6 linked regions of the Homo sapiens genome follow. The protein of the gene in region 1 interacts with the protein of each later gene in a pairwise test. Each region holds a gene or a part of one and is shown in the gene's direction. Other genes may lie near its edges. The genes, in order: ZBTB26, CARD10, MORF4L1, PBK, SOX5 and RNF4.

Region 1 (5,536 bases):
ACCCAGGAGGCAGAGGTTGCAGCAAGCCGAGATCACGCCATTGCACTCCAGCCTGGGCAACAAGAGTGAAACTACATCTCAAAACAAGAAAAAAAAAATTGTACCTAGATTAGTTGTTTCATACCTGGATTTTGGCATCATGCAGTGTAAACCACCAGTTCCAGATCTAACACTTAACACTTTCAACCTCCGTTGGGGTTTACAAGTTATTTATGTTTTCTAAGCTTAGTTTCGTCATATACAAAATGTGGGATAATGGTAATACTTACCTGTAGAAATTTTCACGATTAAATGGGTCAATTTATTTATTTATTTATTTATTTATTGTGATAGGATCTGGCTCTTTCACCCAGACGAGTGCAGTGGCATGATCATGGCTCACTGCAACGTCTGCCTCGTGGGCTCAAGCCATCCTCCCATTCAGCCTCCCAAGAAGCTGGGACTACAGGCGCATGACACCACGCCCAGCTAATTTTTGTATTTTTTGTAGAGACGGGGTTTCACCGTGTTGGCCAGGCTGATCTCAAAGTCCTGAGCTCAAGCAGTGTGCCCACTTCAGCCTCCCAAAGTGCTGGAATACAGGCATGAGCCACTGTGCTCGGCCTAAATGGGTCAATTTAGGTATAACATCTATACCTGAAATGTAGCAAGGAAGATTAGGTATCATTTCTCTTATTTTTAAATAAAATTAAGATGGTTCATAAGAAACTTTTTTTAACTATCAAAAAAAATTTTTTTTAAGTGTTTAAAACAGGTTCATGCCTGTAATCCTAGCACTTTGGGAGGCCTTGTGGGAAGACTGCTTGAACCCAGGAGTTTTAGGTTACAGCGAGATTTGATTGCGCCACTACACTCCAGCCTAGGCAACACAGCGAGACCCTGCCTCTACAAAAAATAAAAACATTAGCTAGGTGTGGTGGTGTGCACCTGTAGTCCTGGCTACTCAGGAGGCTGAGGCAGGACGATTGTTTGAGCCTTGGTGCCAAGGCAGCAGTGAGCTATGATTACGCCACTGCATTCTAGCCTGGGTGACAGATGACAGAGTGAGACCTTGTCTCAAAAAAAAAAAAAAAAAAGAAAGTTGAAATTTGGTTTTATATTGCCAAAACTATTTTGGTAACAAACCCTAGAAAGAAAGCTTTCCCTAGGCACTCAAAAGAAGATATCATAATGAAGAGCATCTGTACCATAGCCTAGTAATAATTTCATGGGGGAACATTAAGAACTCATTATTCTTCTGTTTTTTGTCAAATGAGCTGTATAAAGTATAACAAACCATTGGTCATTGCCCTCAAATAACTAACAGTCTATTGGAAAGAGAAACTAGTGAAAGGAAACAATTAAGGGATAAGATGTGTGGCCTGGAAATAAGAATTTATCAGAGAGAGACAATAGAGTGGGCTGACACATCCTAGGGAAAACATCCTTTAAGAAACCAATAAATTTTGCTCACATTCTTAGACTACAGCAGACAGATCAAAGCAAACACTTCCCTGAACTATCTGGTTGGCTGCTGTTGTTGATAATTTTCTTGAGAACTGATGGATAGGAAGCACAGTCATGCATCACTTAACAACTGTGATGTGTTTTGAGAAATGCGTCGTTAGGTGATTTCATCATTTTGTGAATATCACGGAGTATACTTAATGCAAACCTAGATGGTATAGCCTACTACACACCTGGGTTGTATGACACAGCCTGTTGCTCCTTGGTTATAAACCTGTACCACATGTTACTATACTGAATACTGTAGGCAATTGTAACACAATGGTGTTTGTGTATCTAAATATAGAAGAGGTACAGTAAAAATATGGTATTATATTCTATGGGACCATCATTGTATATGCAGTTCATTGTTGAACAAAACACTGTCATATGACACATGACTAAATGAAACTACACTCCAGCTCTTCATCTTTAGAGCAAGGAACAATTGTCTCTGAGGATAGTTGTCTAAAGCATTGTGAGTACTGTCATAATATAGGTAGAACCAATGAATGCTTATTTTGGGGTGTGAGGAGGGAAATACTGATCTGAGGGTTTCATAGGCACCTTCAAAACCAGCTAAATGCTAAAAAAGAATGCCACTTTTGTTTGGCCACTTGAAACAGTCATTTTTACAACTCTGGTTACAAATTGGAACATTCATCACTCCAAATCCAAAATGAGTATTTTAAGCTACTGCAGTTGCTAAAAGTGACCAATGATAATAGTTTTGCTGCTTTAAATTACTGACATTTTCCCTGTATATCTTCTACATTTTCCCTTCATGTTTGATACTCACTGTCTTTTCTCTGATGTTTCATTTGCTTGTCTACATCGCTCCTCTCTCAATGCAGTTTTTGTATTTATTGTGATTATCGGTACATTCAAAATGTCATACAAGGGGAAAGATTATGCTTTGTTTGTGTTTTTATTAATATACTTATTACTTCTTCTTATATTGGTGCCACACCAGTTCCCCCTCCTAAATTTCACCTCTCTTTCTTTTTTTTTTTTCTTTTTTTTTTTTGAGATGGAGTCTTGCTCTGTTGCCTAGGCTGGAGTGCAGAGGCGCAATCTCGGCTCACTGCAACCTCCACCTCCCGGGTTCAAACAATTATCCTGCCTCAGCCTCCCGAGTAGCTGAAACTATAGGCGCCCGCCACCATGCCGGGTAATTTTTTGTGTTTTTAGTAGAGATGGGGTTTCACTGTGTTAGCCAGGATGGTCTGGATCTCCTGACCTCGTGATCCACCAGCCTTGGCCTCCCAAAGTGCTCACAGGTGTGAGCCACTGTGCCTGGCCGGTCACCTTCTTTCAATGCCATTCTCATTCAAATGAACTCCTAAATGTAGAATCTTTACACATTCCTTTTATTCATTCTCTATATCCAGTCAGTTACCAAGTTCTTTGAAATATCTTTTGTTATTTTTCCTTTCGTCTTATTCCCATTTTTATTTCTTTCTAGGCCATCATGGCCTCAGACCTGCAATGCTTCTGCAGACACTAAGCTGGTCTTCCTAACAACAGTTCTTCCTTACCACTGTCAAACTAATCTGATAGGTTCAACTAATGCAAACTGAGCACTTGCTGTGTATTTAGTGCAGTCTTAGGCGATGGGAATACACACTGATTTGAACAGAAGAGGGTTTGGCCAGTAATGGGACAAGCAATGTAGCTGCAATAAGTATAATATAATTCAAAGCAAAAGTAAAGAATATTTTGTCTTAGAAGATGCAAGTTCCCAGCATTAGATGGAGATACTTCCCCCTAATACCATGAAACTTGGAGTTTGGATGGGAAGGAATAAGTATTTAATAAAGTGTGTTGAGTGTTACAGTAGAAGTATGCAATGGGCCCAGAAGAGACAATTCTACTCTATTAAGCGGTCAGGGAAGGGCCTCTCAGAGAAAATAAAGGAGTCACAATTGTTTAGAAAGTGGTGTTTTTGTTTGTTTTATTTTACTTTGTTTTTTTAGACAGAGCCTCATTCTGTCACCCAGGCTGGAGTGCAATGGCACAATCTCGGCTCGCTGAAACCTTCACCTCCCAGGTTCAAGTGATTCTCCAGCCTTGGCCTCCTGAGTAGCTGGGACTACAGGCACGTGCCACCACACCTGGGTAATTTTTGTATTTTTCATAGGGACAGGGTTTCACTATGTTGGCCAGGCTAGTCTCGAACTCCTGACCTCGTGATCCACCCACCTCAGCCTCCCAAAGTGCTGGGATAACAGGCATGAGCCACCATGCCTGGCTTGTTTTTTGTTTTGGTTTTTGTTTTTGTGATGGAGTTTTGCTCTTGTTGCCCAGGCTGGAGTGCAGTGGTGCAATCTTGACTCACCACAACCTCTGCCTCCCGGGTTCAAGTGATTCTCCAGCCTTAGCCTCCTGAGTAGCTGGGACTACAGGCATGTGCCACTACGCCCAGCTAATTTTGTATTTTTAGTAGAGATGGGGTTTCTCCAAGTTGGTCAGGCTGGTCTTGAACTCCCGACCTCAGGTGATCCGCCTGCCTTGGCCTCCAGAAGTGCTGGGATTACAGGCGTGAGCCACCATGCCCAGCCTAGAAAGTAGTGTTTTAAACTAAGGAAACAAGTATCATTAGGTCTGGAGCCAAGAGAGAGCTGTTATGTATCAGGCATTAAGGAATAAGAATAAAACCTGGACTCTGCCATCAGGAGCTGATATCCATTGTTACAGAAGTTAAGATGATAAAGATTGGACTTTGGGGTCCAGATGTGGCCAGGAGAAGCTGGTTGTCTCATCTGACTCTGAACTAAGGGGTTGATTAATACATAAAATTCAGTGAATTTCTTGATGCACTGAGATTATAGAGCTATATCTCAAAGACAGACCTAGCATACCTACCAATCTCATAGAAGACTGGTATATAAAGAGAATGTCAATTCATTATGTCATTAGTTTACAGTGACTAGTGGACTGGAATTATCGTGTTGGCATGGCAAATTTATCTTTTCCCTTGAGAGAGACAAATGGGAAGCCAGGTTATGAGAAAATCATTTATGAGAGTATGGAATCAGAACATGGAGACTTTCACCAAAGGAATTGCTATATAAAGGAATCAGTATGCAGACAGTTTGGGGAAAGATACCTTCTCCATTGTTGAATGGGTTTTTCCAGTGTTTACCTTAATTATGATTGGGTTTCATTAATCAGTTTATATTCAAGAGGTTAGTCTTCATCCAGGAGACAACGGGAAGTCACTGAAGGAGTTTAGGCAGGGGTGGGGTATAATCAGATCTCTGTTTTTGAAAGATGTGGTGGTATGAAAACTGTATTAGAGGGAACATAAGCAGGAAGCCAAGGCAACATTTATGAATCAGTTCTAGTAGTCCACATAATGACTAATGATTGATAAATAGGGATAAAGTTTAAAGAACAAAATCTAATAGGGATTGATTCGATCTATGTTACCGCTACTCAGATTCCCACCATATAGCTCATGTCGTTTTTCTACATCAAGTATCTTATTTTCTTTATAAAGAAGTGTTCCTTAAAACGGAGTTTAGATTTTTCCAGAATGGACAGGACAAAGAACTTTGTCTTTGCCTAAACATTGTCCCGTTAGTTCTGTGACTTTCATTTTATTGCAGAAATACTTGTATGAATAAGTTCATATCAATTTAAACAGAAAAGGGCTTGGCCAGGAATTGGACAAGCAGTGTCAGTGCAGTTGTTTAAAATATAGAGCAAAGAAAAAGAGCAAAGGAACCCATGTTTGCTGTAGGTTCTCTCTTCTTCAGAGACCAGTTTTTACTGAATGATTCCAGAGAGGTGAAAATCTCCATATTAGAGTTCTGAAGTGGGGAGACAATTGCTTTTGCCTTAGAAGAAGCAGGTTCACAGTTTTATATAAAATAAGATAATTATTTCATCTTTACTTGTGTGGGTTATGTTTTAGTTTGCTTTAGAAACCTGATAGAATTCTCATTTGAGAAGTTAAAAGATACTCTTGGACTATCCCAAGCACTATTCTCGTATAAGTATCTTTAAAAGTTGAACGAATGCCAAGCTATTTACACAAATACAAGTC
Region 2 (4,813 bases), on another chromosome or scaffold:
ATGGGGGTGCTCTCCCTCCACCTGCATTCCCTCACCATCCTCTGGGACAGGGCGGGGGGTTCGAGGAGAAATGAGGAGCTTTCCTTCTTTCTACACACATGATGTCACTCCCTCCCACAGAGCCCAGCAGCTCCTAGAAGTTCAGGAGAAATGCCTGCCCTCCAGCCGGCACCGAGGCCCCCGCAGTAATGTGAGCACGGCTGGGCAGGTAGTGGGTGGGGGGCCCCAAGGGTGGGGTCCAAAAGGGAGCTAGCAGGCTCTGTTCTCTGGCAACCTAGGAAGACACTCCCTCCCTCCTTCCCTGGTGATTTAATTGGTCATCTACTATGTGCCCAGCAAACAGAACAGCAGAGCTCACCGTCCAGGGTAGTTTAGAGATGAAATGAGGTAAAGCGTGCCTAGTATGCAGGAGTACCCCTGGTACATAATAAGCATTTGACAGGCTGGGCACAGTGGCTCACGCCTGTAATCCCAGCACTTTGGGAGGCCGAGGTGGGCGGATCACAAGGTCAGGAGATCGAGACCATCCTGGCTAACACGGTGAAACCCCGTCTCTACTGAAAATACAAAAACAAAATTAGCCGGGCGTGGTGGCGGGTGCCTGTAGTCTCAGCTACTTGGGAGGCTGAGGCGGGAGAATGAAGTGAACCCGGGAGGCGGAGCTTGCAGTGAGCCAAGATCGCGCCACTGCACTCCAGCCTGGGCCACAGGGCAAGACTCCGTTTCAAAAAAAAAAACAAAAAAAACAAACCAGCAGTCATGTCCCCTTTTCCAATGCCTGGATGGTGGCTGGGCTTCGTGGCCAGCGCTGCTGTGCACATGGGCAAGTGAGGCTCAGAGCCATCAGATAAAGGAAGAGCGAGGGCCCCAGCCAGGCAGCCTGCATTCGACCCCAGCTCTGCCACCTATCAGCTGTGTGACTTTGGACAATCACCTGAACCTTCCTTGAGGCTTGTTTCCTCATCTGTAAAGTGCGGGGGTTGTACTGCCTGTCAGGCTGTGCGTGGCAGGAGATGACTTCCGTGAGTTAGTGCCCCTCAGGGGCTTAGTGAGTGTCTGTCATGTTGTAGGCATTTGAGACCTGTCAGGTATTGGTAAAATCAGTGCCATCTTTATTGGTTTCATTAATTTTTCTACCAAGGTCACATTGCTAATTCATTGGAAGAGACCCTAAAGTTTGCCTCGTATGTGACATTTGGTTCCTCTTGGTCTCTGGGCCTCAGTCTCCCCATCTGTAGCTTGGGGGGTATACCTAAGGCTCCTCCACCAGGCTCAGACGGGCTGGCTTCCCGGGGGCCACAGGGATGGCTGCTCTCATCTGCCTGGGGGACTGTGCTGGGCTGGGGAGGGGCAGGGGAGGGCCTGGTGGAGAAGGACATCTTTGCTGACCCAGGCTCTTCTGGCAAGCCTGGACCACAGTGGCAGTGGGGCCCGCTGTGCCAGGGGTCCCGTTTCCTCCTCTCCCTGAGGGGGCGGGGCTGAGCTCTCAGATGCTCCTCTGTCCCTGCACCCTCCCAGCTGAAGAAGAGAGCCCTGGACCAGCTGCGGCTGGTGAGGCCCAAGCCCGTGGGGGCGCCTGCAGGGGACTCCCCGGATCAGCTGCTGCTGGAGCCCTGTGCAGGTGAGTGCGCGGGGGCAAAGCTGTATCCCGTGTTGCTCCCATTGTCCAGGGATGTGTGCAGCTGAGTGTCCTTTAGCTTGGGTGGCCTCTTTGGCCTGGAAGGGCCTGTTGTGAGGGTTCCAACAGGAGTGGGGGTCATGCTGGGGGCCTGAGAGACAAGACCACCCCACCTGCCATGGTGATTGCCAAGGTTGAGGGAGACCCTGCGGGGAGGTGCATGCAGACGTGGCTGTGACTGTGGGTTTGCACACATACTGGCTTGTTCTTTTCTGGCAGAGTGTGTGTAGTGGTGCTTCTCACACGTGTGTGGTGGCAGGTGCTGTGAGGACCCAGGGGGGTTCCCGGAGGCAGTAGGGTGAGGCCTTAGGCCAGACAGGTAGAAGGGGCTGGGGGAGCTCAGATGAGGGAGTAGCAAATCTGGGGCAAGAGGAGCGGGTAGTTAGGGAAGACTTCCTGGAAGAGAGGGAGTTTCCGCGGGGGCCTTCAAAGTTAAAGAGGAGTTCGTTCCAGGCAGAAGGCACAGAGGCATGGCTGTGTGTGGTGTGCTTGGAGGGTGTTGGGGACAGCAGGTGAGTATTGAGTACCAGCTCTGTCAGGCATTGGGGACGTGACTGTCCCTGCCCTCATGGAGCTTGCTGTCTAATTAGGGGGTAGAGAGTCAGATAATCCCACCTATGAACACAATGAGAGAGTGTGAGGTGTGCAGTGGAGAACTGGGGGCCGTGGGGCACATGCCAGGGGCCCTGATGTCTGGGGACCAGGGAAGGTGTGACCTAGGCTCTGAAGGGAGGGCAAGGGTTAACTGGGCTGAGTGGTGCAGGGCTGGGGCTTTGGGCAGCCCCAGGGCATGCAAAGGCCCTGTGGTTGGACGCAGCTGAAGGGAGAGTGGAGGCTGGTGGTGTGGGGTCAGTGGCTGGCAGCCTCCCCAGGCTCTCAGGCAGGACTGTGTCACCCACGTGGGGGATGTGGCTTTTATTCCTGAGAATCTGGGAAGTCACTGGTGTGTTGAAAGCAGGGGAGTTAACATGATCTGATTTGCTTTTTAAAGCCTCTCTGGCTGCTGGATGGAGAATGACCCGTAGGGGGCAGGGATGAGGCAGAGAATCAGGGAGGAGCCTACTGCCACCGTCGGTCCTACTAAGGGTGTGTGTGTGTGCATGTGTAGGAGGAGCAGCAGCAGGACTTAGGAAGGGATGGGTGGCGGGGTGGGTTTTGGGGTATCGACGAGCTGGTATGCTGCCTGCCTGTGCCCTTATCTCTTTTGCGCCCCTCCCCTGCCACAGAGCCGGAGCGGAGCCTCAGACCCTACAGTTTGGTGCGGCCGCTACTGGTGTCTGCCCTGCGGCCCGTGGTGCTGTTGCCTGAGTGCCTGGCGCCCCGGCTCATCCGTAACCTGCTAGACCTGCCCAGCTCCCGGCTGGACTTCCAAGTGTGCCCAGCGGGTGAGACTATGTGCCGGGGAGGGGAGGCTGGGTGCCCCTCTGGGCAGCCGGGCCCATGGATCCTTCATCTCTCCCTCTCCACTCCCTGTGCAGAAAGCCTCTCTGGGGAGGAACTGTGCCCATCCTCAGCGCCTGGAGCCCCCAAGGCTCAGCCTGCCACCCCTGGGCTAGGCAGCAGGATCCGGGCCATCCAGGAGTCTGTTGGGAAGGTGGGTGCTGGGGGCTGGCCTGGGGTGCTCACAGAGGTGGCCCAGAGCGGGTGCTGCTGTTCTGGGCTTGAGCGCCAGCGTCTGAGCGCGGGCCATGCTCTGCTGCTCACTGGCAGGGCGGCCCTGGCCAAGTCCTTTCCCTCCTGTGGCCTTCAGTTTCCTCACCTGTTGCCTGGGTGGGTGGGGGCAGTTGACTGCATGTGGGCCCCCCTTGAGGTGTTTGGCTGACACAGCTCACCTACACATCCTTATCCTTGAACTTGCCACTATCCTGGGAGCTGGCAGTCGGCTATAAGGTGGCGGGTGGTGGGTGGGTTTGGGTCAGCTCCATCCTCCGGGTGGGGAGGCCTAGGTCCTGAGGGGGAGGTCTGTATCTCCAGGTTGCCCCATGAGCCCAGGCCTCTTGTCTGTACTTTTGGGCTCCTTCCTCGTTGCCAGGGTCCCTCTGGGTGGGGAGGCAGGACTTGCATCTGGGAAGGCGGTGATAGGGGACCCGTCTGGGGGCAGCGCATGGGAGGCTGATGTCTGTGGCCCAGGAGTACATTGTAGCCTCGATCCTCCAAGCAGAAGCACTGCCTGCTGGAGCTGGGTGCTCGGGGTGTGCGGGAGCTGGTGCAGAACGAGATCTACCCCATCGTCATCCACGTGGAGGTGACTGAGAAGAATGTCCGGGAAGTCAGGTGAGGTGGGTGGGTGGGGCAGTGGGCAGGGCACTCGGACCTGAGAGCTTCCTCCTTGAGGATGCCTCTCTCCCTCCCCCCTCTCTCTCCCTCCCCCTCTTTCTCCCTCCCCCTCTCTCTCCTTCCCCCTCTCTCCCTCCCCCTCCCCCCTCCTTCTCCCCCTCTCTCTCCCTCCCCCCTCCCTCCCCCGTCTCTCCCTCCCCTTCTCTGTCTCTCTCTCTCCATCTCCATCTGCCATCTGTCTCTCTTTGGTTGTCCATCTTCTCTCTCTGACTCTTCCCCCTTTGTCTGTCCCTCTCTCCCTGTCTCTCTGTCTGTCTTGGTCCCCCACTTTGACCGCTGCTCACTCTTCTCTCGGCAGGGGTCTGCTGGGCCGGCCGGGCTGGCGGGACTCAGAGCTGCTGCGGCAGTGCCGTGGCTCAGAGCAGGTGCTCTGGGGGCTGCCCTGCTCCTGGGTGCAGGTGCCCGCCCATGAGTGGGGACACGCAGAGGAGCTGGCCAAGGTGGTGCGCGGCCGCATCCTGCAGGAGCAGGCCCGCCTCGTGTGGGTGGAGTGCGGCAGCAGCAGAGGCTGCCCCAGCAGCAGTGAGGCCTGAGGCTCATCTGATACCTGCACCTTCTCCCCAAGCCAGCGTGGACCCTGGTGTCTATGGTGAAGCTGGGCCCTCCCACCCTGAGCCTTCCTAGACCCTTGGACTCTCAGATGCAGGGCCCTTGGCTCTGGCCTCTCACCCCCAAGGCTGTCTCTGGCCCTGCCGAGCCTATGGGAGTCCCGGGACAGAGTGCCCACTCCCCTCTACTTGCTGCTCTGGGCCTCCCCACCTTTCCTGGGGTCTCCACATTCCCACTAGTGGGTCTTAT
Region 3 (5,536 bases), on another chromosome or scaffold:
TTGCCATTTTGGGGGAAAAAACACATAATCAGAAATTGTGTTTTGAACAAGCTCTTTGAAGTGCCAGAATGTCTTAACATTTTTGAGAGAGTTGGTTCTGCCTTCTAATATTTAGAAAGCCAGCTTTCTGATCAGCCTTGAAAGTTATTAGTGTGTATTCATTTGTGACTGAATGAAGGTGGAGAATGGTGTCAAATCATTTTAATACTTTACAAACTTAAGTTAGTCTAGTTGGTGTTTGAGTATTGTAGACTTCCTAATATGTTTCTGACATACCTTTAGTGTTGTTTTGTGTCAGGGATTCTCAGGTGTTTTACATGTATTCTCATAACAGTTATTTGAGATAAGTACTGTTGTTATCCTCATTTCATAGAGAATGAAATGAAAACACAAAGCTATATGGAACTTTGTCATTACACACAGCTGGTTTTAATTTTTAAAAATAACTGAGTTTTTGACTCCTGTGCTTTATTTTTGACAATAAAAGTCTTTAAGATAACATAAGACTAATCACTTAGTGAATCTTACATTAAGTGCCAAACTCTTAAGCCATTTCTAAAAATGATTTGAATAATCTGCTTTTGGACTCTGGCAGCTTAGATTTGGAATGCTGCTTTTTGAAAATAAAAAGTTTTCCTTTTTACAGAACAGACTTCCATTAGATCTTCATTTTAGTTGAGAATATATTTGTAGTGCCAGTTCATCAAATTACTTAAGAGAAATCCAGTCTTGCCTCTTGATCTCAGAAAATTAGTTGGAGAACAGAGTATTTTTGAGTTAAATTTTAACTTTCCTCTTTTTCAGTTGGGATGAATGGGTTCCGGAGAGCAGAGTACTCAAATACGTGGACACCAATTTGCAGAAACAGCGAGAACTTCAAAAAGCCAATCAGTAAGTTTGTTTTGTGAACTGAATATTAAGGAGAAATGCCTGTAGATTAATTCTGGACATGGAATGAACAATGGAGATCATGTTGGCTGCCCTGCCTATAAAATGATTCCTGGTACCTTTCAGCTGCTGTGTTACAGCTTTGACTTCAAGCGATCAAGCCATATCTAGGTAAAGGAAGTAGCATACCTGCCATTACTTGAGCTTATCTTAGACCTAGGTAGAAAACAGCAGAATGTTGTTGGAAATTGCTATAGGTATGAACTCACTGATAAAAATCTTTATTTTCGGGGGCTCTGGAAGACAAATTTGGTGGGGAAACAAGCAAACGAGGCATTTCCTATTCTGCTTTTCATCTCTGAAAGCACGGGAAAAGGGACCCTGAAAGACTCTATGATTTATAGGGTAATCTCAAAGTTGAAATGTATTTTTAAAAAAATTAAAACGATGGCTGGGCGCAGTGGCTCACGCCTGTAATCCCAGCATTTTGGGAGGCCAAGGCGGGTGGATCACGAGGTCAGGAGATCAAGACCATCCTGGCTAACACGGTGAAACCCCGTCTCTACTAAAAATTCAAAAAATTAGCCGGGCATGGTGGCGGGCGCCTGTAGTCCCAGCTACTCCGGAGGCTGAGGCAGGAGAATGGCGTGAACCCGGGAGGCAGAGCTTTCAGTGAGCGGAGATCGCGCCACTGCAGTGTAGCCTGGGCAGCACAGTGAAACTCTGTCTCAAAAAAAAAAAAAAAAAGAATTAAAATGGTAATGGGAACAAATAAAACACTGGGATTAGTGAATTCCAAAACAAATGGAATTTTCAATGCTATGAGAACAGTCTATTACAGTCACTTTTTATTACATTGATTTTAATTGAGCCTTTTGCTGTTTCTTGAGTGTTTTGTTTGATTTTTGTGGAAATATCTCTGTCCAACTTGTTAAAAACTTGTTGCCAGAATTTGAATGTAAATTCCTAATGGAATCAGGCTGACAATTTTTTTTTCACATAAATGCTCATTTTATGTTGACATTACTGAAATTATTTTTGAAGGGAGCAGTATGCAGAGGGGAAGATGAGAGGGGCTGCCCCAGGAAAGAAGACATCTGGTCTGCAACAGAAAAATGTTGAAGTGTAAGAAGCTCTTTGTTTTGATTTTGCATACTATATGTGAAGATAATATTTTATGTTCATTGTGTGTTAGACTGTGTTGAAGTGGAAACTTTGGAACATTGTTGGAACCAGTAAGAATCCCATTCCTCAGGTATCAGGTCGTTAAAGTAGTTTAAAATAACGTATTCCTTAATTTTCCTCAGCAGGTTCCCCCTCCCTTTAACTTGTGTGTATAAATATATGTGTGTGATGTTTTCTCTTACAAAGATAGTACTAGTGGTTATAAGTTTTGAGATAACTTTTGGCAAGCCTTTTCAAACCTAAAAAGCAAGTGCTGGCAAGTGCTAAAAATACATACGAATTAACCTCCACTTTGGTGAAACTCATGGTAAGAATATGTGAGAAGTTAAGGTTTCAAATAACTGCCCTCCTCATCCCCACCCCTAAGAAAACCATTGCTTTTTTTTGAGACAGAGTTTCCCTCTTGTTGCCCAGGCTGGAGTGCAGTGGTGTGATCTGTGCTCACTGCAACCTCTGCCTCCTGGGTTCAAGTGATTCTCCTGCCTCAGCCTCCCAAGTAGCGGGGATTACAGGCGTGTGCCACCACGCCTGGCTGATTTTTGTATTTTTAGTAGAGATGGAGTTTCACCATGTTGGTCAGGCTGACCTCCTGACCTCAGGTGATCCACCTGCCTTGGCCTCCCAGAGTGCTGGGATTATAGGCGTGAGCCACTGCTCCTGGCACAAAACCATTACTTCTTGTTAACTCTAGATTTTAGAACATCTGATAAGAAGCCTAGAGTGAGAAAGTCATGTGCATGCATACATTTTGTATGTTTAAAGTTTATGTAGGACGGTGCGGTGGCTCACACCTGTAATCCCCCTACTTTGTTTGGGAGGCTGAGGCAGGAGAATGGTTTGAGCCCAGGAGTTTGAGACCAACTTGGGCAACATCGGGAGCCTCTGGTTCTACAGAAAAATAAAAAAATTAGCTCGGGGGTGGTGGCACATGCTTGTAGTCCCACCTATTCAGGAGGCCGATGTGGGAGGGTCACTTGAGCCCAGGAGGTCAAGGCTGCACTTTAGTCTTGGCGACTGAGTGAGATCCTGTCTTTTAAAAAGAAAAAAAAAAAAGTTGATGTACCTGAAAGTGGATGACAAGAGTGGTAACTTAATAAGTATTCTTAAGTATTTGTAATAATAAAAACAAAAATTATAACTTTTATTAAGAGGTCATTTTATTTCCTACCAGAATTACTGATCTGATTTTTCTACTTAAAAGTAAGGTGTTACACCCAGTGCTTTGGGAGGCTGAGGTGGGAGGGATTGCTTGAGGCCAGGAGTTCTAGGCTGCAGTGATCTGTGATTGCACCACTGCGCTCCAGCCTCTTAAAAAAAGTAAGGTGTTACTAATGAAGGTATTTAGTATTTAATGCATTTGGAGATGTTTGAAGCTTTTTATTTTTTTTTAAACTCTTTTTGGTGAGAAGATAATTGGCAAGGATTAAGTGTGTTACTATTTGAGGATTGTTCATAGTTTTAATAAGTGGTAACATGTTTTCATGATCTGGTTCTTTGGAAAACTGTAGTGTAGTATTTCATTAGGATTTAATAGTAATTATGTCTTAAAAGGCAGTAATTTTCTCTATATAGAAAAGATTTTTATCAAAAGTAATAGTTCATAACTAATTCTTTATCACTGTGCTAAGTTATTATATAGAAATCTTAAGTGGTAGTATGCCCATAAGTTATTTGCATTTGAATACAGCATTGTGCAGTCTCCACTACAAAAATAATGGCTGAGTAAATATATGAAGTAAAGCTTTAAAATTTAAATTTCCCATTCTTGAACAGTAGAAGCCTCTTCAAACTGGCTTCTGAGTCTTTTGAAGGATCCTCAGTCTAGACGTTTGAAGCATGAATGTCAAGCTCTTACTACTAGGACTTATTGAAGTGTATGGGTTGAATATCCCTTATCTGAAGTGTTTCGGACCAGAAGCGTTTCAGATTCCAGACTTTTTTTGGATTTTGAAATGTTTGCGTTATACTTACCTGTTGAACATCCCAAATCCAAAATGCTTCAATGAGCATTTCCTTTGAATGTCATGTTGGCTCAGAAAATTGGGATTTTTGGAGCATTTTGGCTTTGGGATGCTGAACTCATCTATATTTTATAGATCTTTTACTTTAGAGTTGAGATCACCTGTCAGTATTTTAGTTTTATATTACAGAGGTGAGTGGGTAAAGGATTGAGTGTGAAGACTATTGGTTTCTCTTGGTCTCCACATATTGACACGTGCAAGTAAAGTTCATGGTTGACTTTGACCGAGAAATACAGTCCAACAGATTTTTACAAAACTAACAGACAAGAGAAAACCTATACACAGATTTTTGTGTTTATATCCAAACATAAGTTAATTTGAATTGTCAAACCTTAAGACCTAAATTAAATGAATATATTTAATTAATAACATTTATAAGTATTATTTAAAGCTACAGAAAAGTAAAAAATCCAGGTGTTATAGTATCTTTCCATCGAAAGTAATCCATAATCATGGGCTCTATAAACTGTTTCCTTTGTGGTCTAGAAATAATAATGTAAAAAAGCAAAATTAGGCCAGGCATGGTGGCACACGCCTGTAATAGCATTTTGGAAGGCCGAGGTATGCGAATCACTTGAGGTCAGGAGTTTGAGACCAGCCTGGCCAACATGGTGAAATCCCGTCTCTTAAAATACAAAAATGAGCTGGGAGTGGTGGTGGGTGCCTATGGTCCCAGCTACTTGGAAGGCTGAGGCAGGAGAATCGCTTGAACCCGGGAGGAGGAGGTTGCAGTGAGCCGAGATCACCCAACAGACAGAGCAAGACTCCATCTCAAAATAAATAAATAAAGCAAAATTAGCAATTTACCATTTGACAGTATATAAGTGACGTGAGGTAAGTTGCTGTTAGAGATGATAATCAAGATGAGGAGACTTAAAACAAAAAAATTACACAAATCTAAAAATATTTTGGGGAACAAAAATAATTGGAAAAAAATTTTAACCTTTGACACCTTTTTTTTTTGGTGGGCCTAATAATGTAGTATATACTATAACATATATTAATATAACCCTGGAAGAACGAAGTTGTTTACTAAAGTGTTCTTGGTTTGCTTTTCTTTTTTTTTTGTCTTTGAGACAGGGTCTCTGTCACCAAGACTGGAGTGCAGTGGTGCAATCAAGGCTCACTGCAGCCTTGGCCTCCTGGGCTCAAGCAATCCTCTCACCTCAGCTTCCCAAGTAGCTGGGACTATAGGCGTTTGCCAGTATGCCCAGTTAATTTTTGTATTTTTTATAGAGAACAGGATTTGCCATGTTGCCCAGGCTGGTCTGGAATTTTGAGCTCTAGAGATCCACCCCCTCTTCACCTCCCAAAATGCTGGGATTACAGGCATGTGCCACTGCGCCTGGCTTGGTTTATTTTTTTCTATTATGTGGAGAGAGATGGGAATTTAACCAACTATCAATAAAAATCCTTGTGTCTGAGTAGGACACATATTTACC
Region 4 (4,383 bases), on another chromosome or scaffold:
GATTTGCATTTCTTTGATGACCAGTGATGATGAGCATTTTTTCATGTCTGTTGGCTGCATAAATGTCTTCTTTTGAGAAGTTGTCTGTTCATATCCTTTGCCCACTTTTTGATGTTTTTTTTTTTTTTTTTCTTGTAAATTTGTTTGAGTTCTTTGTAGATTCTGGATATTAGCCCTTTGTCAGATAGGTCGATTGCAAAAATGTTCTCCCATTCTGTAGGTTGCCTGTTCACTTTGATGGTACTTTCTTTTGCTGTGCAGAAGCTCTTTAATTAGATCCCATTTGTCTGTTTTGGCTTTTGCTGCCATTGCTTTTGGTGTTTTAATCATGAAGTCGTTGCCCATGCCTATGTCCTGAATGGTATTGCCTAGGTTTTCTTCTAGGGTTTTTATGGTTTTAGGTCCAACATTTAAGTCTTTAATCAAATTTGAAAACTACATATCTCAATAGATACCGAAAAAGTGTTTGACAAAATCCAACATCCATTCTTGATTTAAAAGTTAGTTTAAAATCTAGTTAACCTCTCAGCTAACTAGAAATAGAAGGGATCTTAGCTTGAAAAAGGCTGTCTACAAGAAAAACCTGCAGGTATCATACTGAAGTAGGGAACAAGACCAGGATGCCTGCTCTTGCCAGTTTTATTTAGCAGTCCTATAGCCCTAGCCACTAAAATAAGGCAAGAAAATGGAGAAGGCAAAATTGGAAAGGAGACGAAACTGTCCCCGTTTGCAGTTGATATGTTGTTTAGGTAGAAAATCCCAAGGAATCTATAAAACAGCTATAGTGAAGTTAGTGATTACATTTCTGTGTATTAGCAGTATATAATTGAAAATGGAATTGTTTAAAATCTATTTACAAGTACCAAAACCCAAAATATTTCGGAATAAATAACCAAAAAAGTCTAAAACCTCTGTAATGAATACTATAAAGCATCACTGAGAAAATTCAGTAAGATATAACTAAGTGGAGAAATATATGACTGCGGTTTGGAAGACTCAATACTATTAAGATGTTAATGCTTACTAAATTGATCCAGAGATTTAGTCCAATCCTAATGAGAATTTTAGCTGGCTTTTTCATTGAAATTGACAAGTTGACTCAAGTTTAAATGGAAATGTGAGTGGACCTATTTCTTTCTTGGGCTTTAAAAAAGAGCCTATGTGTGATTGGTCCCTTTCCCTTTTCCTTGACATAGCAATCATGGAAGCATAGAAATGGTACTTCTCTCAGCCTAATATTGTTCACAAAATGAAGAAATTCAGGTCTAGAAGTGATCTGCTCAAGGTCACGCAGCTTGCACACACATGTCTTTGAACCAACCCAAGCAAGGCAGTCTGGCTCCAGAGTCTGTAATCTCAACATCCACATTCTATATTCCTACTAATTTGTAAGAGAATTGCTGTTTCTCTACATACCTGCCAACTGACCAGCTTCTTGAATATTTACCAACCTGAAAGGTAGAAAGTAATCCTTATTGAGGTTGAGTGTATTTTTACATTTTCTGGCTACACTGATTAACCTGTGAACTACTTGTTCAAATCGTTCGCCTGTTTCCCTTTGGGTTGCTTGCCTTTTCGTGATTTGTAGCTCCTGCCTTCATAACCATCTTGCTTGTTTCAGTGACTGACCCTGAGGCTTGTTACATTGGCACAGAGCCATGGAAACCCAAAGAAGCTGTGGAGGAGAATGGTGTTATTACTGACAAGGCAGACATATTTGCCTTTGGCCTTACTTTGTGGGAAATGATGACTTTATCGATTCCACACATTAATCTTTCAAATGATGATGATGATGAAGGTATGAATACAATTTCTAACATAAATCCCAATCTCTTCATTTCACACTAAAGATTATATAATTTTATCTTTCTAAGATATGTATTAGTACTGATGACTGATTTGGTACCACCAAGGTTTAATCTCACACAAATGAGACATAGATTGAGAATAGGGAGAAAAATTGAGGCTATCCAGAGAAGCAAAACATTATCTTAAAAACTCCCCTTTCCTGAGAAAATGATTGATTGGAAAACTATCACAGGAAGGGTAAAAGTAGGGGTCGATAACCTATAAATCCAAGACTAAAGCAAATCTACTTGATGGCAGGACAATTGAAGACATTTCCATTCTGTCTGTGGCAGAATGGAAAGCATACTGGACCATAAATTCTTGTTTCAGGAGAAGGGTGAGCTATTAAACTTTTCCATGACATAAAGTGATTTTGTTTATTGTTTCAATCTCTAACTCCTTCAAGATAAAACTTTTGATGAAAGTGATTTTGATGATGAAGCATACTATGCAGCGTTGGGAACTAGGCCACCTATTAATATGGAAGAACTGGATGAATCATACCAGAAAGTAATTGAACTCTTCTCTGTATGCACTAATGAAGACCCTAAAGATCGTCCTTCTGCTGCACACATTGTTGAAGCTCTGGAAACAGATGTCTAGTGATCATCTCAGCTGAAGTGTGGCTTGCGTAAATAACTGTTTATTCCAAAATATTTACATAGTTACTATCAGTAGTTATTAGACTCTAAAATTGGCATATTTGAGGACCATAGTTTCTTGTTAACATATGGATAACTATTTCTAATATGAAATATGCTTATATTGGCTATAAGCACTTGGAATTGTACTGGGTTTTCTGTAAAGTTTTAGAAACTAGCTACATAAGTACTTTGATACTGCTCATGCTGACTTAAAACACTAGCAGTAAAACGCTGTAAACTGTAACATTAAATTGAATGACCATTACTTTTATTAATGATCTTTCTTAAATATTCTATATTTTAATGGATCTACTGACATTAGCACTTTGTACAGTACAAAATAAAGTCTACATTTGTTTAAAACACTGAACCTTTTGCTGATGTGTTTATCAAATGATAACTGGAAGCTGAGGAGAATATGCCTCAAAAAGAGTAGCTCCTTGGATACTTCAGACTCTGGTTACAGATTGTCTTGATCTCTTGGATCTCCTCAGATCTTTGGTTTTTGCTTTAATTTATTAAATGTATTTTCCATACTGAGTTTAAAATTTATTAATTTGTACCTTAAGCATTTCCCAGCTGTGTAAAAACAATAAAACTCAAATAGGATGATAAAGAATAAAGGACACTTTGGGTACCAGAAGGTGTCTCAGCATTATTTTATACTTCATTGATTTGAGTGTTGTCATTAAACTTGAGTAAATGTGAGGTTTCTTTCCCTCTCTTGGCCTTATTTTGCTAATCTATAAAGTGTTTTGGATCAGTAGTTTCTGTAAGCCACAGTCCCCTGGGAATTTTCCAAATTACTGAATTGCCAATGTAGGTGGTATACCTACATTTGGGTGTAGACAGAATTTTAAAAATTACCGACACAGGGCGTTCTCAGAAACATTAGGAACAACTGCACTCTGAACTTTAAAAATGCCTAGAAATCACTGAAGGCCTTTTGGTATAAGATTGTACCAAGCAATAGGACACAACATTAATTTGCATATATTCCATCAAAATAATGTGACAAGTAAATTGGAAGTTGTCTTAATTTGTAGAAAAACGTATGTATAATTTTGCATCCTGATACTCAATAGGGTCTCTTATCCTCACTCTGACATGTGTCACTCTTCTTTGCCAAGCCAACAGAGCAGCTTCTCCAGGGCATTCTTTTCCTAGCAGGAATAGCAGTTCCTGCTTTAAGACTTAAAGCAGGAACTGGATCTTTCTTGAATTGGCTCTTTAATACATAAGCCATTGCTTTTCATTGAGAAATTTATTTCCACTTCCTACAGTTGAGATATCTAATAGGAATAAACTAATACCAAGGACAAGACCAGCAAATTCACAGCCCTTGTCTATGGTAGACATTACAAAATAATCCCAGCATGCACTGCCCCTTGAGTCTGGTGAGGTCCTAGAAATCCTCAACACAAGATTGCAGACAATCTGCTACCAACTGGAAGAAAATTTTTTTTATTCTTGTTCTAGAACTTGCTCTAAGTCTCAGATGTTATCTTTTTGGACATTTGCCTCATTCTCAAAAGAGCAACATGTGACTTGGCTGAGGGCTTTTTTTTTTTTTTTTTTTGAGACAGGGTCTTGCTCTGTCACTCAGGCTGGAGTACAGTGGGGCAATCATGGCTCACTGCAGTCTCAACCTCCCAGGCACAAGTGATCCTTGCACCTCTGCCTCCCACTCCGAGTAGCTGGGACCACAGGTGTGTGCCACCACACCTGGCTAATTTTTTTTTTTTTATTTTTTGTAGAGACAGGGTTTTACCAAGTTGCTCAGGCTGCTCTGGAACTCCTGAGCAACCTCTGTCTAGGCCTCTCAAACTGCTGGGATTATAGGCGTGAGCCACCGTGCCCAGGACTACCTTTACACTGAATTAATTAGTAA
Region 5 (5,536 bases), on another chromosome or scaffold:
ATTCAACAGTGAGCTATTTGCATTTAAGATAGGGAGTTACGGGTGAGTAATGAACTCATTCGAAAGATTCTAAGATCTTACTTAGATGACATTTGAAGGCAGGTATAAGGCCATTTGGTAGGGATATCCTAGTTCCAGTTTATCGGTCTTTGTGCATTCGCGTTGAGTTGAGATGACTATTTGCAGATAAACACACTTCATCTGCAAATAGATTTTTAAATCACTATTAAAAAAAAAAAAACGCTATTACTACTGAGGGCTGCCAGCACGCTGTCACCTCTCAATCCGAACATCAGAAGGAACAAACTCCGGACACACCGCCTTTGAGAACTGTAACACTCACCGCGAGGGTCCGCAGCTTCATTCTTGAAGTCAGTGAGATCAAGAACCCACCAATTCCGGACACATTACCACTTCTATTACACATAGCCATACTGACAGAATCCAAGTTTTAAACCATATCTAAAATGTGAATTAGCATAAACTATTTTTATTTAAGCTTCAAACTTGTCTTTTTTAATCCCAGCTAAATTCACACCAAAATTAATAGTGAAAAGAAAGGGGGAAAACAATTTGGGTTATTATTACTAAAGCAGACTGTATCATGGGAAGTGACGTCTTTGTATGTTATTGAAATTGATTTATTAAGAGAAAATCGTAATACGCATTTACAGTAATTGTGACCTCTGCTATATTTTGTATAGTAGGTGGCCATATGTAGGAAAGGGCATACATTATAGCACAATTTAAGTTATATCAAATCTGAGTTTGAGTCACAGATCTGTACTTCAGTAATTATGACCCTGGCTAAGTTAGTCCATCTATTTGAATCTCAATTTTCTCATCTATGAAAATAGATAGAAATGCTGTCTCTTTTATAAGATTGAGGTGAAAGGTAGGAAAAAGACATCAGTATGTCAAGGTTTCAGCACAGTGTCTGGCACATAGTAGTTACCCACTCCATGTTTATTAATATTATAATTTTAATTATAATTAAATGTTTAATCAAAGGAATTTTTAATTACTACCATTCCTGTAAGCTTAAAATACTTAAACATTTTGGGGAGGATGAGACTACATGATATATGTTGGGAACTTTTGTAGTAAAAAACATCTCCCACATAAAAATATTCAATAACTAGATAATTAGTCTCAGATTCAAAATGCATGATAACATATCATGTAACTTTTCTGTTCACATGTGAATTATATCATGATCTAATGTAGAAATGAGAAATGTATCCATTAAATTATCTATGAGCTTTAAGGGACATAATACAAAAGTTTGGCTAGAATGCAAACCAGAAAAAAAAAAATACTGCCCAGTGTTTATATCTTTAGGTACAAAACCACCACCACCTCTGTTCTTGTGGGATCTCACTAATCAAAAACAGGTTTATGTATTTCTGGGTTTTGGCTAACATCTCAACTTTAGATTTTCTTGTTCTCAGCCATATCACTTTCTGGAATGCTTAGAAGCTGTGCAAATTGGAATCCTAACCTCCTTTCTTCATAGGATCTCGCTGGAAAGCTATGACAAACCTAGAGAAACAGCCATATTATGAGGAGCAAGCCCGTCTCAGCAAGCAGCACCTGGAGAAGTACCCTGACTATAAGTACAAGCCCAGGCCAAAGCGCACCTGCCTGGTGGATGGCAAAAAGCTGCGCATTGGTGAATACAAGGCAATCATGCGCAACAGGCGGCAGGAAATGCGGCAGTACTTCAATGTTGGGTATGTACCTTTTAGTCATTTTTCTCATGGGGCAAACTTCCTGTTATACTTAATGGGATGTGAAACATATTTGTTCAGTTGCAAAAAGACATTTTGAAAAAGAATCTGAGCTCACAGTATTTTCAGAGACAAATAGTCTCCCACATGATCTTGAAAAATATGTCCATATGAATCCACTGCAAGTTCCTAGCTCTACCATGAGATTTGTTAACAACTGGTTTAAAAACAAGATATCTACAAGCAAATGATTTTGAAGTTTTCTATTAAAAACTTAGAAGTATAACTGGTTCTTTTCTTCATTGGTTTGCATTACTTCCTAAGCTTCACCATGATAAATTCTAAAACTAACAACTTTGTTGAGACAATACAAAATAAAAATCATTTCAAAAGCAAAAATACTTATTTCTAAATATAGAGAGGTTAGTGAGCTATCAAGGTACATGTGTGGCCTTTGTGGATCACACAAGCTAGGGATTATATTTAGGGTGTAACAAGGTTGGGAACAGGAGGTTTCATTCTGAATTGAGAACGCAGCTCCGAGATGTTTTACAATGCTCCCGTGGCAAGGTTGTTGACAGTGCTGTAGATGGGCTACAGAAATGCATTGCTTCTATAGAATTCTCTCAAAAACCCAAAATAAAGTTGTTCATATTTGAAACAGAAGTTAGTTTCTAAGAGCTTCTTAGAATAATAAATATTGTTCTAAATATGGGCAGAGAAGGACTCATAAAACCTTTCCAAATCTGCTCTGTCCCCTCCAGTTCCTTGGAAGAGGCTGCATGCTCTGTCCAGTGGTCTGTGATTCATATGCAAGCACATGACTCCTCACAAAGCTAAACACAATGCCCAACAGTTCTTGGGCAAATAGTAAACATACGAATGAATAAAAACAAGCATAAATGCACATCATCTATTCATCCTTTCCAATAGGACCACCTACATTATTTATAGGACCAGATGCAAAAATGAGGAGACAGGGTCTCTTGTTAAAAAGTTATTAAGAATTTCAAGTCTGTGGCAGCACAACTTTAAACCAAGTATGGGACCTTAGTGCAGTTGCACAGTTTGTACATCCATGAAGCTGCTCCTGCTTCCTACCACTACGAGGCCAGAACTGTTTCAGAGACTCAGTGGACAGTGTGAATTTGTTCAGTTCTGGTGTGTTCTGGGCAGTAAAGTTTTATTTTGAGAACTCTAATGCTTTAGGATTTTCCCATTAAAATTTAATTATCTTTAGATTTAATTCTAGGGAAAAATACTATTTCTGCATGTTATAATGAAAGAAAAATGAACTTGGAATCAAGGACCTGGGTTCTTCTGCTTCATCTTTCTGCACCTCAGTTTTTTAATAAAACAGTAGTAACAAACAGGATTAAGAATAAGATGGACAACACATGTCAATATCTTGTACTCTATAAAGCACTACCTAAACATAAGGTATTAGGCCTGGTGCGGTGGCTCACGCCTGTAATCCCAACACTTTGGGAGGCCGAGGCAGGTGGATCACCTGAGGTCAGGAGTTCAAGACCAGCCTGGCCAACATGGTGAAACCCCGTCTGTACTAAAAATACAAAAGCTAGCCAGGTGTGGTGGCAGGCGCCTGTATTCCCAGCTACTTGGGGGGCTGAGGCAGGAGAATCGCTTGAACCCTGGAGGGGGAGGTTGCAGTGAGGCAAGATCACGCCATTGCACTGCAGCCTAGGCAACAGGAGCGAAACTACGTCATCTCAAAAAAAAAAAAAAAAAAAGAAAAGAAAAGAAAAACAAGGTATTAAAGTTCAAGTAGGATGGAGTTTGAAAAATGTTAGGCAATTAGATAAAATTAGTACCTTAGAATTGGACATTGCTGAGCAAATTAATTATGTAGTAAAGTCCACATCTAACTATTCACTTACCCACGATGTCTTTTTGGAAATTCCTTTCTTGACAGGCAACAAGCACAGATCCCCATTGCCACTGCTGGTGTTGTGTACCCTGGAGCCATCGCCATGGCTGGGATGCCCTCCCCTCACCTGCCCTCGGAGCACTCAAGCGTGTCTAGCAGCCCAGAGCCTGGGATGCCTGTTATCCAGAGCACTTACGGTGTGAAAGGAGAGGAGCCACATATCAAAGAAGAGATACAGGCCGAGGACATCAATGGAGAAATTTATGATGAGTACGACGAGGAAGAGGATGATCCAGATGTAGATTATGGGAGTGACAGTGAAAACCATATTGCAGGACAAGCCAACTGATAAGGGTCAAAAGATTGTTGTGACCTTAGGACTTAAAGAAGCCCTAACTGGTTCATCCTTACCAGTGGCCAAGCACATTAACTTTCTCATACACTGACTGTTACTTTAACTGTTAGTCTTAAATAGTTGGGACATCAGCTGACTAATAGACCTCAGCCTCAAAAGGCTTGGAAAGAAAAAACAAATACAACAAGCAAACAACAATATCAACAACAAGAGATTGAAATAAGCTATGGGTAAAATAATGCCAGTAATTCAGCTGCTACATCCAAGCACTGAAGTCTTACCCGTCAACTTTTTTTTTTTTTTAAATAAACTTTATGGCTGTTTGTTCTACAATGTTCTAGAAATTCTCACTCAGGTACACAGTGCCAACAAGTGGCTTGTGAATGTGTTTTGTTGTTTTGTGCTACAATTTTTAAAAAGAAAAAAGTTTTGTTTTGTTTTTTGGGGTTTCTGGGTTTTTTCCTTTTCTTTTTCTTTCCTTTCATTTTTTTTCTTTGTAATGCACCTGACAGAAAAAAAAGAAAAATGAATTTCTCTTTACTTCTCTCCACCTTCTCCATCTCTCTACTTTAAAGATGGAAGTCTGTGCATGAGGGGAAAGAGGGAAAAAGAGCCTGTTTTTAACTTCCTTGCTATCCACCACAAAATAAGCAATTATTTTCTTTAGAGGACTTTATCTATTGCACACCACACTACATCTTTGAGCAAGTGCCAAATTTGTACTGAAGTGTTGACCAAGTTCATTTTTTCTCTTTACTTTTTCCTTTTCCTTCTTAAGTTAGGACAGTGTTAAATCTTAGACAATCCCTTGAAAAACCTGAAATACCAGCAGCTGGTGAGATTTGACTTTTTTTTTTAATGGAAACTGTAGGTGCTGTTCTCAGGTGAAAAGAGAGAGAGAGAGAGAGACATAAGAAATTTAGAGAAAAATATTTTCTGATCTTGGATTTTTGTGTGTATGTATGTATGTGATTATGGTACTAATAATAGGAATAACGTTGGACCATTGTGAGTTAAACCCACATCTGGGGATGAAATCCCACATCCTCCCAAGTGACTGGTCTAGAAATAATCTTGACCTTGACTTTGCACTTCAAATGACAACTTAACCAAGTATAGGGCTCAGAAATTATATTTTTAAATGTCTGATTATTATTGGATGGATCAGGTGGCCCTGTGTAATAGAGGTGTGCATGTATAACATGGAAGCTACTAGCAAACTGCTCCCAGATGTCCTTTCTCCCTGGTCAGTTGGTTCCATTAACGTTTGCTACTTAGTGATTTTTGTTTTTCCTGTTGATATTTTGAGCAAAACAATCATTGTTTTCATTGAATATATTTGGCCATTTTTTCAGACAAATAGAATTAGCTTATTTCTTCAACATTCCATCCTTTCCCGATCAGGAAATGAAACTGATGATTTTATAAGGTATTTTTCACCCCTCCATGAAGTGAGGTGGAGGCCTTTAGCATTTCAGAAGTGTGGGCCATATGTAGTTCATGCCATAAAAAGTAGGATTTAATTAAAAGTCATTGCAGCCCAATAAAATGGAGCCTGGCTGC
Region 6 (5,536 bases), on another chromosome or scaffold:
TGGTGCATGCAGGTCTGGGAATCTGGTCAGCATCTTAAGGGCAAGTTTGCCTCTGGAAGATGCCACTTGAGTGTTTTCTGACAGTGTGCTCGGAACACAGGTCGGGGTGGGGGCACACTTGGCAGCATTGGCAGTGGGGTGGTAAGTGCTGCTGAGGAGGACTGTGGGGTGTGGGGGCTGCTAGTAGCTGAGTCTTCGCCTTGGCCCTGGGCTCACTGGTGTTGGGGTTATCCTGTTTGGCTGATGCCTGGGTATCTGAATAGGGACACCCCATAGGTGTTGCTTCTTAGTTGTGCTGAGAACTTCAGAATAGGGTTATACTGAGAAGTTTCAAGACTTCAATGCAAAGAAAAGGACAGGGATGGAAAACCATCTGAGATAAGCAGCAGTGGGTTTAGTTGTACGTGGTCCCTGCTTAGGTCTCATTAACGTGTTTTCTGAGGTACATACACACATATGACTTTGCTTATCATCCCTGTGTCCTGCATGGAGTTCTGGAAAGATAACTAATTTGGTATATTAGCTGGCAGCTACAGCACAGTCACTGATTTTTCCCCTCTTTCTTTTTCCCAGCTGACACCTTGGTTTCACCAGTTGCTCATTAAAGCTGGAAAGTGGTGTCTGCAGAAGTTTTTTTGTTTTTTGTTTTTTGTTTTTCTTGAATACTCAGTGTTCACCACAGTCTTCTTGGCCTTCTCTCTGCCAGACCCTGAGGAGAGAGCTAGGATTTTGACTGCAGGAAGACAATGATTGATTGGCTTTTGTTGGCTGACAAACCAACATCATTTCCCCTTTCACACTTGTGTTTTCTTTTGCTTTAGAAACAGGGTCTCAGGCTGGGCGCGGTGGCTCACGCCTGTAATCTCAGCACTTTGGGAGGCCGAGGTGGGCGGACCACAAGGTCAGGAGTTTGACATCAGCCTGGCCAACATGGTGAAACCCTGTCTCTACTAAAAATACAAAAATTATGCGGACGCCTGTAGTCCCAGCTATTCAGGAGGCTAAGGCAGGAGAATCGCTTGAACCCAGGAATCAGAGGTTGCAGTGAGCCGAGATCACGTCACTGCACTCCAGCCCGGGCAACAGAGTGAGACTCCATCTCAAAAAAAAAAAAAAATACAAAAATTAGCCAGGTGTGATGATGCATACCTGTAATCCCAGCTACTCGGGAGGCTAAGGCAGGAGAATTACTTGAACCCAGGAGGCGGAGGTTGCAGTGAGCCAAGATCGCGCCACTGCACTCAAGCCTGGGCGACAGAGCAAGACTCTGTCTCAAAAAAAAAAAAAAAGAAAAGAAAAGAAACAGGGTCTCACTCTGTTGCCCAGGCTAGAGAGCAGTGGCATGATCACACCTTACTGCAGCCTCCAACCCCTGAGCTTAAGTGATTCTCCCACATTATCCTCCTGAGTAGCTGAGACTACAGGTGCATGCCACCATACACTACTAAATTTGGGTCGGGTGGTGGTGGTGATTTTTTAATATTTTTGTAGAGACAGGGTCTCACTGTGATGCCCAGGCTGGTCTTGAACTCCTGGGCTCAAGCAGTCACCCACCTCAGCCTCCCAAAGCACTAGGATTACAGGTGTGAGCCACCACACTGGCCAGCTTTGTTTTGTTTTGATGACTAAGCTGCTCTTGCTAAAAGGGCTTCCTCTCTGAACTTCCCTACCTTTCTTCTGTTTCCCTGGGCTAGGGCTCCATGTTGGCAGTCCTACTCCCAATTAACCTGGGGCTGTCTGGTTAACCTTTATAAGATCTGCAGTCATTGGGAGACCCGGGGACCAGGAATATTGGTGTTGAGGGAGCTACCCTGGAAAGTGGATGGGTGGCCAGAGGGAGAGCTGATAGGTAAAAGGGAGACGCTCCTGGCTTGGGAAGCAGGAGTCCTAGGTTCTGGTCTCTCAGATCTACTGGTCAGTTTGATCAGTGGATTTATCTCACACTGTCCTCAGTGTTGTCAGCCACAAAATAACTGCTTTGGACTTGATAGCTCTTGCTAATCATTCTCTACTTATTTTTGATTTTAATAAGTCCAAGTGCCAGTTTATGAATTTACACTGAGACATATACTTGAGTTTGGAATTCTGCCTCTGAGCAGATCTGTTTGGGAGGCCTCTAATGCTAGTCACTGAGGATAAGGGGCATCTGTAGATGGATCGTGTGTTCAGGGTGACCCTAGGCTGCACCTGCAGGAGAGTATAAAATGGATAAATGTATTCATTCTGGAAGCGGGGTAACCTTCCTTACCAGTTCCGCCAGGACCTGTCGAATAGTTTGAGTGCACTGCTTTAGCTCCAGTAGCTCTGTACCTGTAATATAGGAATCCCTGGATACCAGGATCCAGAGGTAGCCGTCAGAACATCAGGGAACCCTCTAAACTTTGTGCCTGTGGTCCCAGCTACTGGGAAGGCTGAGCAAGGAGGATCACTTGAACTCAGGAGTTCAAGGCAAGCCTGGGCAACATAGTGAGACCCTGTCTTCTTCAAAAAAGAAAAAAAGACTGGAAACTTTGCATACAGGTGTGCACATTCTTCCAACTTTCGAAGGAATTCAAAGCCCCTGAAAAATGAAGGGAAATGAAAAATGCGGTAAGATGCAGTGAGAGACTTTGTTCATCTCATTTGATTAGTTTCCCTCAAAATGAACTTTCATTTTTGGCATTGCATAGCCTAGAAAAGGCATCACTGCTGTGTCCCGAGGTGTGAGTGTCTTTGATTTTTACTGGATAAATGCCAGACTTTTCTAAAGAGGGAGCAGTTCACATTCATGCCAGTGTTTGAGGTTCTCCACATCCTCATGGCCACTTTTAATTTTAGCCATTCTGATGCTTGTCCAGTGGTGTCTCATTGTGGTTTTAATTTGTGCTTTTTTATTACAAATGGGATCAAACACCTTTTCATGTTTATTTTTCTCTTTTGTGAAGTGCCTGTTTAAAACTTCTTTGTTTTATAGCTTTTATTTATTTATTTATTTATTTATTTATTTATTTATTTATTTTGAGACAGAGTCTTGCACTGTTACCCAGGCTGGAGTGCAGTGGCGTGATCTTGGCTCACTGTAAGCTCTGCCTCCTGGGTTCACGCCATTCTCCTGCCTCAGCCTCCAGAGTAGCTGGGACTACAGGCAGCCGCCACCATGCCCGGCTCATTTTTTGTATTTTTTTTTTTTTTTTTTTTTGAGACAGAGTCTCACTCTGTCACCCAGGCTGGAGTGCAGTGGCACGATCTCAGTTCACTCAGTTCACCTCCGCCTCCCGGGTTCAAGCAATTCTCCTGCCTCAGCCTATTGAGTAGCTGGGACTACAGGCACGCACCACCATGCCAGGCTAATTTTTTATATTTTTAGTAGAGATGGGGTTTCACCATGTTGCCCAGGCTGTTCTTGAACTCCTGACCTCAGGTGATCCACTCGCCTTGGCCTCCCAAAGTGCTGGGATTATAAGCATGAGCCGCTGCACCTGGCTGTTACATAGCTTTTTTTTATGCAACTTTCGTATATAAACTTTTTTCATCATAAATAGGACTTTTCACTTTAGTACCTAGCTCATCCCAGTAGCTTTTCCAGAACTGCTGTCTTCACCACAAAGCTCCCTACGTTTTCCCAATGCAAACCTGAGTGTTTTTAGCATTTTAACTTTCCTCACAGAGAAGACATCGTGGAGCGGATAAATAGATTTGCAGGCATTTCTGTGTCTTCTCCAGTGCTGTCTGGAATAATTTTCTCCACCACTTCTTTCAAGTTATTTGTCTGCATCTCTCTTTTTTTTTTTTTTTGAGATGGAGTCTCGCTCTGTTGCCCAAGCTGGAGTACAGTGGTGCGATCTTGGCTCACTGCCAGCTCCGCCTCCTGGGTTCACACCATTCTCCTGCCTCAGCCTCCAGAGTAGCTGGGACTACAGGTGCCCGCCACCACACCCGGCTAATTTTTTGTATTTTTAGTAGAGACGGGGTTTCACCATGTTAGCCAGGATGGTCTCGATCTCCTGACCTCGTGATCCGCCCGCCTCGGCCTCCCAAAGTGCTGGGATTATAGGTGTGAGCCACCGCGCCCGGCCTTGGGTCATGATTTCCATCATCTTAGACCTGTTGGTGCTGAGGTTTTCTTTAACCATTGGTAGTCTAGACATCAACATGAGCTTCAATCATGGTCTGCCTTTTTTTTTTTTTTTTTTTTTTTTTTTTTTGAGACGGTTTCTCACTGTCACTCAGGCTAGAATGCAGTAGCGTGATCTCAGCTCACTGCAGCCTCTGCCTCCTGGGTAGCTGGGACTATAGGCATGCACCACCACGCCCAGCTAATTTTTGTATTTTTTGTAGAGACAGGATTTTGCCATGTTGTCCAGGCTGGTCTCGAACTCCTGACCTCAAGTGATCCACCCGGGTGGTCTGCCATTTTTAAATCACACAACACATTTTGTCATGGGTAAGACCCACGCATGGAAGCTAGGCAGTTTTTGCCCTGAACATCTTGAACAGTCAGCTTGAGTTTTCTGCAAGTCAGCAAGCCTTCAAACATAACCCTTGAGGCCATCAGATACAGTTTTGGTTCCTTGAGTCCTATAAACTTTTTAAATCGTTGAAAAAATTGAACTAGAACAAAGCAAACCATTTGTTGTTTTCTTTTTCCCCCCTGAGACAGAGTCTCGCTCTGTCGCCCACGCTGGAGTGCAGTGGCACAGTCTTGGCTCACTGCAACCTCCATCTCCAGGGTGCCAGCGATTCCCATGTCTCAGCCTCCTGAGTAGCTGGGATTACAGGTACACACCACCACGGCCAGCTAATTTTTGTATTTTTAGGAGAGACGGTTTTGCCATGTTGACCAGGCTGGTCTTGAACTCCTGGCCTCAAGTGATATACCTGACTCAGCCTCCCAAAGTGCTAGGATTACAGACGTGAGCCACCATGTCCGGCCTCCTTGGTTGCTTTTTAACAGCAAATAATCTTTTTTTTTTTTCCAAGTTGTGTGCTTTCTCCAAATTTGTTTTTTTTCTTCTTCTTCTTCTTTTTTTTTCCCTTGAAACAGGGTCTCACTTTGTTACCCAGGCTGGAGTGCAGTGGTGCCATCACGGCTCACTGCAGCCTGTACCTTCTGGGCTCAATTGAGCTTCCTGCCTCAGCCTCCTAAGTAGCTGGGACTATAGGGGTATGTCACCATCCCTGGCTGATTTTTTATATTTTTTTGGAGAGACAAGGTCTTACCGTATTGCCCAGGGTGGTCTCAAACTCCTGGGCTCAAGTGATCCTCCCACCTTGGTTTCCCAAAGTGCTGGGATTGTAGTTGTGAGCCACTGAGCCTGACCTTGGGTCACTTTTCATGAGCATTTTCAGTATGCCAGTCTCTGCTCTGGCTAGAAGCAATGCAGTGGTAGAAAAGAGACTGGCAACTCTCTTTAAGGAATCGAGATTCTTTAAGGGGAAGGTTATTGAAAATGTTACTTAGGCTGTTTTTCTTAAATTTCCAAAGATTGTCTCTTAGTAAGGTTGATTTTTCTGGAATCTTTTTTTGGTCTGTTTCTATAATGTATGAATAAGTCAC

What was found.
Region 2: the proteins of ZBTB26 (region 1) and CARD10 interact in binary tests that used the Homo sapiens proteins (3 or more experiments, as listed by UniProt).
Region 3: the proteins of ZBTB26 (region 1) and MORF4L1 interact in binary tests that used the Homo sapiens proteins (3 or more experiments, as listed by UniProt).
Region 4: the proteins of ZBTB26 (region 1) and PBK interact in a two-hybrid assay, tested with the Homo sapiens proteins (2 studies listed by BioGRID and IntAct).
Region 5: the proteins of ZBTB26 (region 1) and SOX5 interact in binary tests that used the Homo sapiens proteins (3 or more experiments, as listed by UniProt).
Region 6: the proteins of ZBTB26 (region 1) and RNF4 interact in binary tests that used the Homo sapiens proteins (3 or more experiments, as listed by UniProt).

Annotation. Positions count from the first base shown.
Region 1 is NC_000009.12:122,920,160-122,925,695, reverse strand, and holds part of ZBTB26 (zinc finger and BTB domain-containing protein 26), read left to right. Parts: intron 1-5,536. UniProt on the Homo sapiens protein: May be involved in transcriptional regulation.
Region 2 is NC_000022.11:37,490,894-37,495,706, reverse strand, and holds part of CARD10 (caspase recruitment domain-containing protein 10), read left to right. Parts: intron 1-120; coding exon 121-190; intron 191-1,518; coding exon 1,519-1,621; intron 1,622-2,904; coding exon 2,905-3,063; intron 3,064-3,156; coding exon 3,157-3,272; intron 3,273-3,839; coding exon 3,840-3,952; intron 3,953-4,313; coding exon 4,314-4,548; 3' UTR 4,549-4,813. UniProt on the Homo sapiens protein: Scaffold protein that plays an important role in mediating the activation of NF-kappa-B via BCL10 or EGFR.
Region 3 is NC_000015.10:78,885,337-78,890,872, forward strand, and holds part of MORF4L1 (mortality factor 4-like protein 1), read left to right. Parts: intron 1-804; coding exon 805-891; intron 892-1,932; coding exon 1,933-2,013; intron 2,014-5,536. UniProt on the Homo sapiens protein: Component of the NuA4 histone acetyltransferase (HAT) complex which is involved in transcriptional activation of select genes principally by acetylation of nucleosomal histones H4 and H2A.
Region 4 is NC_000008.11:27,808,373-27,812,755, reverse strand, and holds the end of PBK (lymphokine-activated killer T-cell-originated protein kinase), read left to right. Parts: exon of another isoform or gene 1-1,588; coding exon of another isoform or gene 1,589-1,621; coding exon 1,622-1,798; exon of another isoform or gene 1,799-2,254; coding exon 2,255-2,451; 3' UTR 2,452-3,132; downstream 3,133-4,383. UniProt on the Homo sapiens protein: Phosphorylates MAP kinase p38. Seems to be active only in mitosis. May also play a role in the activation of lymphoid cells.
Region 5 is NC_000012.12:23,532,650-23,538,185, reverse strand, and holds part of SOX5 (transcription factor SOX-5), read left to right. Parts: intron 1-1,516; coding exon 1,517-1,733; intron 1,734-3,663; coding exon 3,664-3,967; 3' UTR 3,968-5,536.
Region 6 is NC_000004.12:2,501,570-2,507,105, forward strand, and holds part of RNF4 (E3 ubiquitin-protein ligase RNF4), read left to right. Parts: intron 1-5,536. UniProt on the Homo sapiens protein: E3 ubiquitin-protein ligase which binds polysumoylated chains covalently attached to proteins and mediates 'Lys-6'-, 'Lys-11'-, 'Lys-48'- and 'Lys-63'-linked polyubiquitination of those substrates and their subsequent targeting to the proteasome for degradation.